Regions from separate parts of the Homo sapiens genome. Here region 2 is linked to region 1. The links come from fine-mapping of genetic effects on gene expression. Tissue or cell type: whole blood. Region 1 holds a variant in brackets; the other region holds the start of a gene. All regions are shown on one strand. Distances are from middle to middle.

Evidence for each region. PIP is the estimated chance that this variant, and not a neighbour inherited with it, causes the effect.
Region 2: it holds the start of ADGRB3-DT, and the variant in region 1 is fine-mapped to the expression of ADGRB3-DT in whole blood (TOPMed, PIP above 0.99). The same link has a PIP of 0.9 or more in blood mononuclear cells.

What each region holds. Positions count from the first base shown.
Region 1 is chr6:68,738,484-68,743,483 of GRCh38, reverse strand. The region is part of intron 3 of ADGRB3 (adhesion G protein-coupled receptor B3); the gene reads right to left. Among named protein-coding and RNA genes, the nearest start is that of ADGRB3, 110 kb to the right of the region's middle. The variant T/A (reference allele first, on the strand shown) is at 2,511.
Region 2 is chr6:68,632,234-68,637,604 of GRCh38, reverse strand. ADGRB3-DT (ADGRB3 divergent transcript) reads left to right here and starts at 3,281. Exons shown (of 2, transcript NR_125872.1): 1 at 3,281-3,420; 2 at 4,549-4,942. It overlaps ADGRB3 (adhesion G protein-coupled receptor B3), which reads right to left and starts at 2,323. Exons shown (of 32, transcript NM_001704.3): 1 at 1,605-2,323; 2 at 43-214. LOC127898563 reads right to left here and starts at 1,715. Exons shown (of 1, transcript NM_001414704.1): 1 at 1,638-1,715. The coding sequence starts at 1,715. The coding sequence ends at 1,638. RefSeq lists a silencer at 2,375-2,584.

The DNA.
Region 1 (5,000 bases):
TGTCTAAGAAAACATGGGTTATCAAACTATTTGGAAAGTCAGGAAACTTCCCGAACAGAAAAAAAAAATGGAGCACTTAAACATTTTCAAATCTACCACTAACAAGAATTTCTGGATATACACACACACACAAAAAAAAAAACAAGTAGAAGATTCAGATGTCTCAACTTAGGAAATCAGAAGATATATTGAAGGTGAGCACAGTCATTGCTGAGATCTTAATCAGTAGCCTGAATGATCCAGAAGAGAAGGAAAACATGAGAGAAAAGATGAGACTTGGCAGATATATTCAGGTGACCTCATACCCAAGTAATAGGAATAACAATAAAAGAAGGAACAGAGAAAGAATCTATAATTAAATATTTAATTGAAGCAAATTTCTGAGCTAAAGAAATGTGATTCTATAGACTGAAAGAGCTCACGAAATCCAGCCTAGATATATCAGAAAACGTATACGCATGCCTAGTCATATCTGGTAAACTGAGCTGTAAGAATAAACACAAGTACTATAGAACTCCAAACAGGGGTGAAAAAATAGTTGCTTAAAAAGATACAAGAAATACATCTTTATTACATAAAATTTAGGAAAAAATAGAAAATTATAAAAAATATATTAAAATTACATGTATCCCACTATATAAAATATTAATAGATGTTTTAATGTTCACACCATTTAGTTTATTTTCCTTTTTGAGGAAAAACAATATCTAGAAGTTTACGTGGCTACTTTATTATCACATTATTTCTTAAGACTTCAATTAATATTTTAGGATGATTTAACATTTAGTGATTCCCTGCTTAGTGCCAAATACTGTGGTGAAATATTCACCTCTCCTTTATTCTAACTTAACCTTCACAGAAAATCTATGTGGTAGGCATTTATTATTCTCTGTTTATTGAGAGTAAGTGACTTCTTTGGGTGGTGCAGATGTGGGAAGCAGAGGAGTCAGGTTTCAATTTCTAATCCAAATTTTAAACCTGTCCTTTCAACTATAACAACTCACTTTTCAAAGAATCAGCCTTATTCCTGAGAATGATTAATATAGATAGTGCTTTTATTTTTCTTTTTCCCCTCTGTCAGAGTCAAGACCCAGAGAAAGAAAAAAAAAACTATAAGAGTTCCTTTAAAATGTGTATGACCTGTCATAGAAAGGATTAAATTTCCATTCATATATTTATGTTGAGACATAATATATAAACAGTGTGCTTAATGAGAACTGGAAGAATTACAATATATGCTGAATTTGAAACTAGTTTACATCATGAAGAAGCCACTCATTAGCAATGACTTGTGATAAGACTGGGGAGAAAACACCACAAGCAATTTATCTCCTAGGATTTCTTCAGAAGTCAGTGGCAAAGCAATAATAGTCAGTGAATGACATCACAATTTTAACTTATTTCAGGGAAAGTGTTTCCATGTAGTTTTCTTCATATTTTAAGCTAAATTCTTCAAACAAAAGATATATGAACATTCAGTTCTTTGCATTTTTAACACAGAAACTTGTGTTCAAAGTTTTTATGAATTTTCCCATGTGGTCCTTCCTACTTAAACAACATGTGAACTCGTGAATGATAATGAATTTGCATATTTAGCTAAAACGTTATAAGAAGAAGAATGCAAAAAGGAATGCTGAAAAGAATTTTTAAAGAACATTTCATCAGAAGCAAAAATGTTTAGGTTGTAAAAAACTGATGACAATAATTCAACCTGTCACCTTAATCAGCCAGTTTGATATTAGATTACTCTTCTATACTTATGATAGAAAAGGTAACAAACAGTGGTTAAGAAGGCCAGGGCAGGCACAGTGCTCAAGCCTGTAGTCTCAGAACTTTGCGAGGGTGAGGTGGGAGGATCACTTGAGCTCAGGAGTTTAAGACCAGCGTGGGCAATACAGTGAAACCCTGCCTCTGCAAAAACTACAAAAGTTTATCTGGGCATAGTGGCACATGTCTGTAGTCCCAGCTACTCGGGAGGCTCAGGTTGGAGGATGGCTTGAGCTGGCGAGGTGGAGGTTGCAGTTGAGCCATGATGGCATGATCACAGCACTGCACTCCAGCCTGGGCAACAGAGCCAGGCCCTGTCTCAAAAATAAAATATTAAAAAAAATTTAAAAAAAGCCAGACTGCTTGTATTCAAATACCAGCTCTCACATTTGATAGCTATGTGACCTTTGACCTTTAGGAGGTTACTTTATCTCCGGGTGCCTTAGTTTCATAATCTGTAAGATGTGGATAAAAATAGTTTTTGTTGTGGTAGTTTCATGAGAATTAAATGTGTTAACAAATGTAAACACTTGTAATAGTGCCTAGCACATAGGAAGCCCTATGCAGACACTAGATACACCATTTTGTGTCCATGCATGCATTTGTTTCATTTTTTTTTCCTGTCAAGCAAACTGACAAATGGTTTTTCACCAACTTCCATGTTTGTCCCAAAGTTTCAAAACTCACAAGCTCATTCTGTATTCTTCTGCTTCCTTTCCCTTCTTAGAAAACCAAAACATATA[T/A]CACTGTATGCATGCACTTCAGAGAAACAGGAAGTTGGTGGGGGTGAGGAGTTCATACAGAAGACTGACATGGCCTATCAACACTTAACTATGTTCCAGTTCAAACAAACTCACTTTATCTTTGTTAAGGGAATAGAAGAAATGAAACAAACGGTTTTGCCCCAATTTAAATCCTATAAAGTATTTCTGACATCCTTCTATAGATACACCAAAGGTAGTTTTGCACAACATAATGGATAAATAAATATTATGTTTTACTAACACATAATATTGTTAAGGGACAATTTTAAAACCATTGCATGCATATATTATAATAACATGTAAAAATTAACACTGACATTGTGGCCCATACAAGGACATGATTCCTATGAAATATATGCTTCATTCTTAGTAGCCAAATTGGAATTTTTTTAATAAACAGTTGTATCTAGTCCAAAATCTACCCTTCTACCATATTCTCATCCAAGGTTATTGATACAAATTGATGTTTTTTTCTTAAAGATGCTCTAATTACCCATAAGAATATTTACTTGCTTCTTATTGATATTTGTTTCCTATTTATCACATTTTCTTTTCTTTATAGAGACCAGGTCTCACTATATTGCCCAGGCTGGTCTCCAACTCCTGGGCTCAAGCGATCTTGCTGCCTTAGCCTCCCAAAGTTCTGGAGTTATGGCCTATGCCACCACGCCCAGACTTATCACTTTGGATATAAGTGATAACAGAGGTCTTTGAAAAGCCTGCCCAGACACACAACACTATGCAATTTTTAGTAGCACAGACTTCCATTCCCTAAAATAAAGCCTGAGATTTGTGTAAAGGAAATTCTTTATTAATTATCAGAAAATTGCAGAAGTAGAAAATGTTATATAAGCCTAATCAAGTATAAAATAACTGATAAAATAGAGTGTCAGAGAGTTTTGTATAGACCTGCCACTTCTGAATAATTGGCATTATTATTATTAATAATAATGTTGTACCTGTTATTAATGTTGTTTTTCACTTGAAAATGCTAAATAAGCATCTCTATTAACAAGCTACAACCTTTCGATACTAATAGTACACAAAGTTAAACAAAAACATAGAAAGTTAATTAAAACCAAACAAGTGAGATAATGAAACTAAATGACTATTGATGGCTTAAACTCTACAGCTAACTATGTGATGGCTTGATGTGTGTTCATAATTAACCTACAATTTGAATATGTAAACATTCTGTAGATTTCATTTAGTACCACAGTAATTTTCTTTTTAGAAAATAAATCAGATTAACTCTCTTTTCTGGTCAACTATTTCACTTCTCCTCTCTTTCCATATCTTAAACACCTGCTATCCTCACTCTCAGCTGTTTATTCTCAAAAAATGTAAACAAATAGAACAGAGTTGCCAAAGGCTCTCACCATCATGTCTATCACCTACCTGCATCTAGACCTGTGCACTCTGACTTCTCTCATCTCCCTTCATTCTGCTATCTGAAGAAAATCCCTCCAATTGTGCATCAGGCCCCATCCCCTCTTACCTACCTAAAGACAAGCTCTTATTCTCTTTGTTTCCTATGTAATCATTTTTCAATTTCTGCAGAAATTCTAGTAAGCATATAAAAACATGAAAAACTTTCTCCCAACTAAAACTAAACAAAACCCTCACTTGACCACACATACCTTGCCAATATACAATTAATTTGCCAGTTCTTTTTTCCAACAAAATTCCTACAAAGATCTTTCCTTACTCATTGCTTCCGATCCCTTTCTTCGTATTTACCCTTAAATCCAATCCATTCAGGTCATTCAGCCTTCTACCTTTTAAAATTGCACCAGAGGTAAAGTATTGTTGGTAAGGTCATCATCAATGATCGCTACGTTTCTAAGTCAGTAGTCAATGATTGGTCCTCATTTTAGTTGACCAATAGCAGAATTTGAAACATTTGCTTGCACCTGTTCCTTTTACTTGACATATAAGGTATCACATTCTTAGTGTTTTACCTTACTGACCAGTTCATGTTAGTCTCCTTTCCTGTATCCTCTTCATGTCCCCAATCTGTTGGAGTGACCCAGATCATAATCCTCAGACCCCTTCTCTATTTACAATCACTTTCTTGGTAAGATTATACAATTTTGTAACTGTAAATATCCACTGACAGCTCCCATATTTTAATCTTTATTTGGACATCCCTCTGAAACTTTTTATTTGAATGTGAAATATACATCACAGACTTACTTTGACCCAAATCAAACTAGTAATCTTCCTGCAAAATTTGTTTTTTCCTCATCTCAGAAAATAACTCCATTCTTAAAATTGCTCATGCCAAAAACCTTAACGTCAGTTTTGTTGATAACTCTTATTTTCATATTTTATACTTTAGGAAATCTTGTTGGTTCTTCCCTCAAAACATAGCCAGACTCAAATAATTTCTCATTATCTTCACGACCTTCTCCCTCTAGCCAAAATTATCACCTTTGTTCAGTCCACTGTCATTTTCACCCCTAGGTT
Region 2 (5,371 bases), 110 kb after region 1:
ACCCTGGCTTTGGATAATAAAGTAGTCCTTGGTTATATTTACCTCTGTAAGTTGTTATCCAAAAATAACTTGAATATTTTTCAGCTTTAACCTTTAAGAAGTTATTTCTTAGAATAAATGACACTGCTTTTGTTTGTTTGTTTAGCCTTTGAGCTGATAAAAGTGATGCCAAGTTAATTTTAAAAGTCTTTAGGCTGCAGTCTCTTCCACTGTTCTGTAAACAGAGACAGACATACAGACATATAGATAGTTAAGAGTTTTCATGCCTTTGCCTGGGTCTTCTCTGAATCAAAGGATAAAACCCTCTTCCTTCCCATTGCATAACACACACCAACGCATGCACACCAAATCCAGTGACCGAAGTCCCTGAAGATAGATCTGCATTTTCCAGATTATAATTCAAATTCTATGTCTTGATATAGGCAAACACAGCCCCAACTCTAAATCTCTATATAGCAGCAGTTTAAAATAACATCAGAACTGCTGGGACCATCAAAACAGTGTTCTCTGTTTCAAGCAAATAGCTCAATGAATAATGCATTTTCTTCATGAGAAAATAAAGCCAATGAGCATTTAAAGGTTAAAAAAAAACAGAGAAAGTTGTAAGAAATTCTGGAAATAATTTCCTTTTTTTTTTTTTTTTTTTGGTGTTGCACTTTGCAGGCAATGCAGGTCTGCGCAGTGTTCTTCAGGATAGAGTGTAGGCGTTGAGAGCCAATGTGACAATAAGTGTCTAAATTAGGAATTCCATCCATGAAAGGGGACTTCATTTTATAATCAGGAACTCAAAAAGAGGTCGTATGTCTTTTCCTAATGAAATTGGTACTTTTGCTTTCATTTATTTGACAGTGCATGTCTGCAATGCCGTGCTCATCAATGATCAGAGAGTGAGGAAATAGCTCTGAATTCACTTTAATGCCTGCTCAAGAGAGCGCACTCAATATAATGCTCTTTATTTTTAATCAGTCTGGAGTACACAGTCTTATTTTGTTCTAAATAATAAAAAATAAATCATTACCCTCACCCCCCTTTGGACTGCAGGGCCCGTTCAAAAAGCCGTGTTTCCCTCTTAAAGAAGGGGTGGGGGCGGGGGCAAAGGCTGGCCACGGAGGTGTCAAGGATGTTTTATTTATTTATTTATTTATTTATTTATTTATTTATCTCTTGCTGAGAAGCAAACCAGCATTGAGTTTAGCTATTCTCAAAACTGATTTTCTGGGTGACACTTTAGTTTAGTCGAACATAGACGGCGCCATCACTCCACAGATTTTTCCCCCCAATAGAAGACCCACTGCCTTCTCTTAACTTCCTTTTAACCTAAAATTTTCCCCTCATAAAATTACCCCAATCACACAAAACTGCCAGATTTTCTAGGTCTCTCCGCTTATTCCTTCTGACCCAGCACATCTCTTGAAAACCAGACTTCTCTAACTTTTCAACTGCGGCGTTTAAGTAAATGCAGACAGTCGGATCTGCTCACAGCCTCCCCATCCGCCAGCAACAGCCTTTCCTTTCATTTTCCTCCCTTCTCAAACATTAAGCCCAAAGCTCCACGGTGGCGACCCCCGGCAGAGAAAAGGTGACCCCTGGACCCCCTTCCTTACCTTCCACTCCGAAAGCTCAGGGAGGCTCTTGCTCTAAGACACCAGCACAGGCACGCGTCCCAGCAACAGTGACGGAGAGACTCCCCTTCGGTCCCAATCACCGTTGCCCATTTTCCCCGGCTCAGCTTCCAAAATCAGGATTTATTTTTAAAAATGCATACATACGAAAAGCAAAAGGTGGGGGGTGGGAACCAAAGGGGGGTCGATGAGAGAGAGGAAAAAAAAGCCAGCAGGAGCCCAGAACCTTGCGCCGTATCCAACTGAATCCAACCTCCAAACCGAGGGGGGCTAAAGGGAGGGAGAAGCCCCCCCAAGGGAGACTCTAAGGAACCCCCCAAAATGTAAGTGGCTTAATAGCAAAGATTTGTTTCATAAAAGCTACCCCCAACAAACCAAGAAGCAAAGAAAGCGCTGAGACGAGAAGTGACCGGCGGCGGCGGCGGCTGCTATGGCAGATTTGTTGGGGCGGTGGGTTTATTACAGGAGTATTCGTGGTCGGATCGGAAGGCTCAAGCTTATGCTTTTTCCTCTTTCCGCTTTCCTCCCTCCTCCTCCTCCCCCCTGCAGGTACTGATGGACGGACGGCGACTAAGGAGAGCGGGGAAAAAAATCCTTGGCTGGTGATGTCGGAAAGCTGTTTGAATGCCCAGCGAGGAGGGAGGCGCGAGAGGGAGCGAGATAGTAAAGCTCTGTCTCGGGTGTGCGCGCCGGCGCGCAGTGCTCGCTCTCCCTTGGGCGCGCGCGCGGGGGGTGCGCGTGTCCCGGGAGCGCGTCCGCGCGGCGGCCTCCCGCGTGCTCGTGTGCGCGCGCGTCCCGGGTGCCGCGCGCCCTTCTTATGCACAGCTGCGGTGCGCCCCGCCGCCCGCCAGAGGCTCGGCTCGCGCGGCGCGGCCGCTGCGACTTCCTGGAGTTCTGCCTGCCGGGGGCGCGGGCGGGTGTGTGAGAGAGAAGGCGAAGGGAGCCGCGGGGTGGGAGAGGAGGGAGTCCCGGCGGGAGGGCGGGGGAGAGGCTGGCGGGAGGGGGGCTCCACGGAGCTCCAGCCAGGGCCGCGGTTCGCCTGCACGTCACGGCTACTCAAACCCAAGCACGTCCCGAAAGCGGTATTTTCTGCGTCTGGGAGGTTTTTGCATCCTCAGTTCCCACCGCTGGGGCTGGCGGCGACCAACTGTAAGAGAAACTCACTGGGAGGCGAGGCAGGGGGGTGCGGAGGATGGGAAGGCGACTCTGAAGGGTGGGAAGTGAATGCTGGACTTGATCGTCTTTCTCTTTCTTTCAGCGCAGACCTGTCGCAGCCAGAGAGCTGTCATTTCAGTACCGGGATTCAGAATTGATCCAGTCCGCAGCGGAGGGGGCACATCCCAGCTACCGAGCTGCTGAGTGTCTCTGGCTGGAACAATAGTATTTTTTTCTCTGCGAGGCTGCAATTAACATCTTATTTGTTCTGGCTCCATACAGGCTTTGTCAGGATCGCGGTGCGGCGACCGACGTTGGGCTCTTGCATTGCTTTGTGCTTGGCAATGGAATCATGGTTTCGGGGTCTAAACTTTTGTTTCGTTTTGTAGTCTTAATGTATCTGATTCTTTTTCAAGTTTCCCTAGTAACAGGTTTGGGGACGGGGTGGGAAGAAGCGAGAAAAGGGGTGAAGAGAAAAAACCAGATTATATAGAAAGGAAAAAGGGAAAAGGGATGTTTCCCCACCTTTTAATCTAACTATCTATCTGTCTGTCTATCTATCATCATAGATAGTCATTTTGCCTCCTGGACAGTTGGCTGACGAAGTGTCTGATAAACCAGCTTCAGATACATGCTACAAAAGGTCATTCGCCTCCTGATTATGTTTCTACTTGTAAACGCAGTTGGTGGTTTGCAAAACAAGTGCTAAAATAGTGCAGTGATGTGGTGGGAGGAAACCATAATGGGTAATTCATATAAAGTGCTGGAATCTTCGTAAGGGTGAGTTTCTCGAGCGGCAGGTGAAGTTGAATAAAGCAATTTTCCATCATTTGTTCCCCTCACTCTTGCATTTTTTTCCTCCGCTTGTTTCTCTCCCCTGGGGCGATTATGGATAGCCAAGAACACCATTTTAAAAGAGATTGATAGTGAAAACAGGAAGTTTATGGTCTGTTATCCACTGGAGTTGTTTGAAATATTAAAATTGGTCCTTTACTTCTTAATGCATATTAATAGAGTGACCCTCTTCAAGGCTTTCCCGTCTTAAACGAATGCCTGGGATAAACACTGTAAGGGGAAACAGTTAATAATTCCCCAGCAGGCTTTAACTATTTTCCCAGTAACAAATCACCGGCAAGAGAGCAGCCTGGGTGGCATTTTGGTTTTGTGTCATTTTGGTTCTTTACAATATTTTTTATTCATTTAAGGAAATGTTAAAAGGAAATAATTAGGGTTTATGTCCAGAACAAATTTTGAAACACCGTTTAAGCAACACATTTTCTTTTAAAAACAAAGAACATTGAGCAACACAAAGGAGAAAAACATTTTATTTATTTCAACTTCCCTAGAGATCGTAATTATGATTTTCGCAAGGCAATTTGGTCAGTTCTGTTACTTTATCCAGAGGAAAAAAAAGCATGACAGATGTGGAATAAAAACGGAGGAAAAAATGCTTTGGATGGTTTATACATAAAAAGGAAAGAATGTAATGTGAGGTTCAGTTATACCTCTATTTTGCATCTAGTGATTTCTCATATTATCTTGTAACACTGATTTTGATGTTTCTTAGAAATTCTTAAAGTCATGACACAGTGGCATAAGAATAACAGCTGAAAGGGACAATTTAAAAGCCTAAATCCTAAATGGAAAGGTTCACTTACTCCCAGGATCATTTATATTCAAGTAGAAGTCAGGGCAGGGTCAGAAAAGAAAGCCACCCTTAATAAAGCGCTTCACCCTTCACATTGTTTCTCATAACCTTCATAAATTGCAGGCTACTGAGCTGGCCTGATGATGATCCTTCTGAGATATATTTATAGCAGATGATTTGTGGATGATAACTACGCCAAGCAAGACACTGTCTCCAGTAACCCCAGGCTCGTCTGACTTCCTCAGGGGATTATAATAAAGAATCACAAAAAGAACCCTATATGGACAGTCTGGTCTCTGGACACTAACAACAGCACAATCCAAAGGCAAAGAAAGGAGGAACCACCTTGTTTCATGTCTGCAAGCTGCTCCATATGAAAGCATTGCTGACATGTTGACCCAACAGCAAAAAGAGAGCAGCAGTTTACACACCCTCAGCTCTCTGTCCTTTCCTTTCTATTGATGTTGGTCCACTTTTATGACTGAATACATATTAAAATCACCATTTCAAATTATAATTATCTGCTTTCATTGGTCTCTTTCACAAGTCTATGTCTATATTTATGTTTACATATATAAACACATATACACATATTTTATACATACATATGTATATGTATGCACGCATTATTTGTAAGTACACATACACGTGTGTGTATATATATGTATATGATATGTATATGTGTATTTCAGTTGATACACATATATTTGCTTGGGAAGTTTCACTACATTGCTTTGTATTTCTCTTTTATAAGGTAATGCATTTAATTCCAAAACTACCACATTAATTGTATAAATTGATTATTACATAAGTTTCCTTGATGATTTACAGAAGAACTATTGAGAGGTCAGTGTTAGCACATCAAAATATAGTCTGGTATGGCATTTTAAATTGACCCAGGTATCTAATATTAAAGCCTTTCAAATTTATCTCTCCTGCTATTATT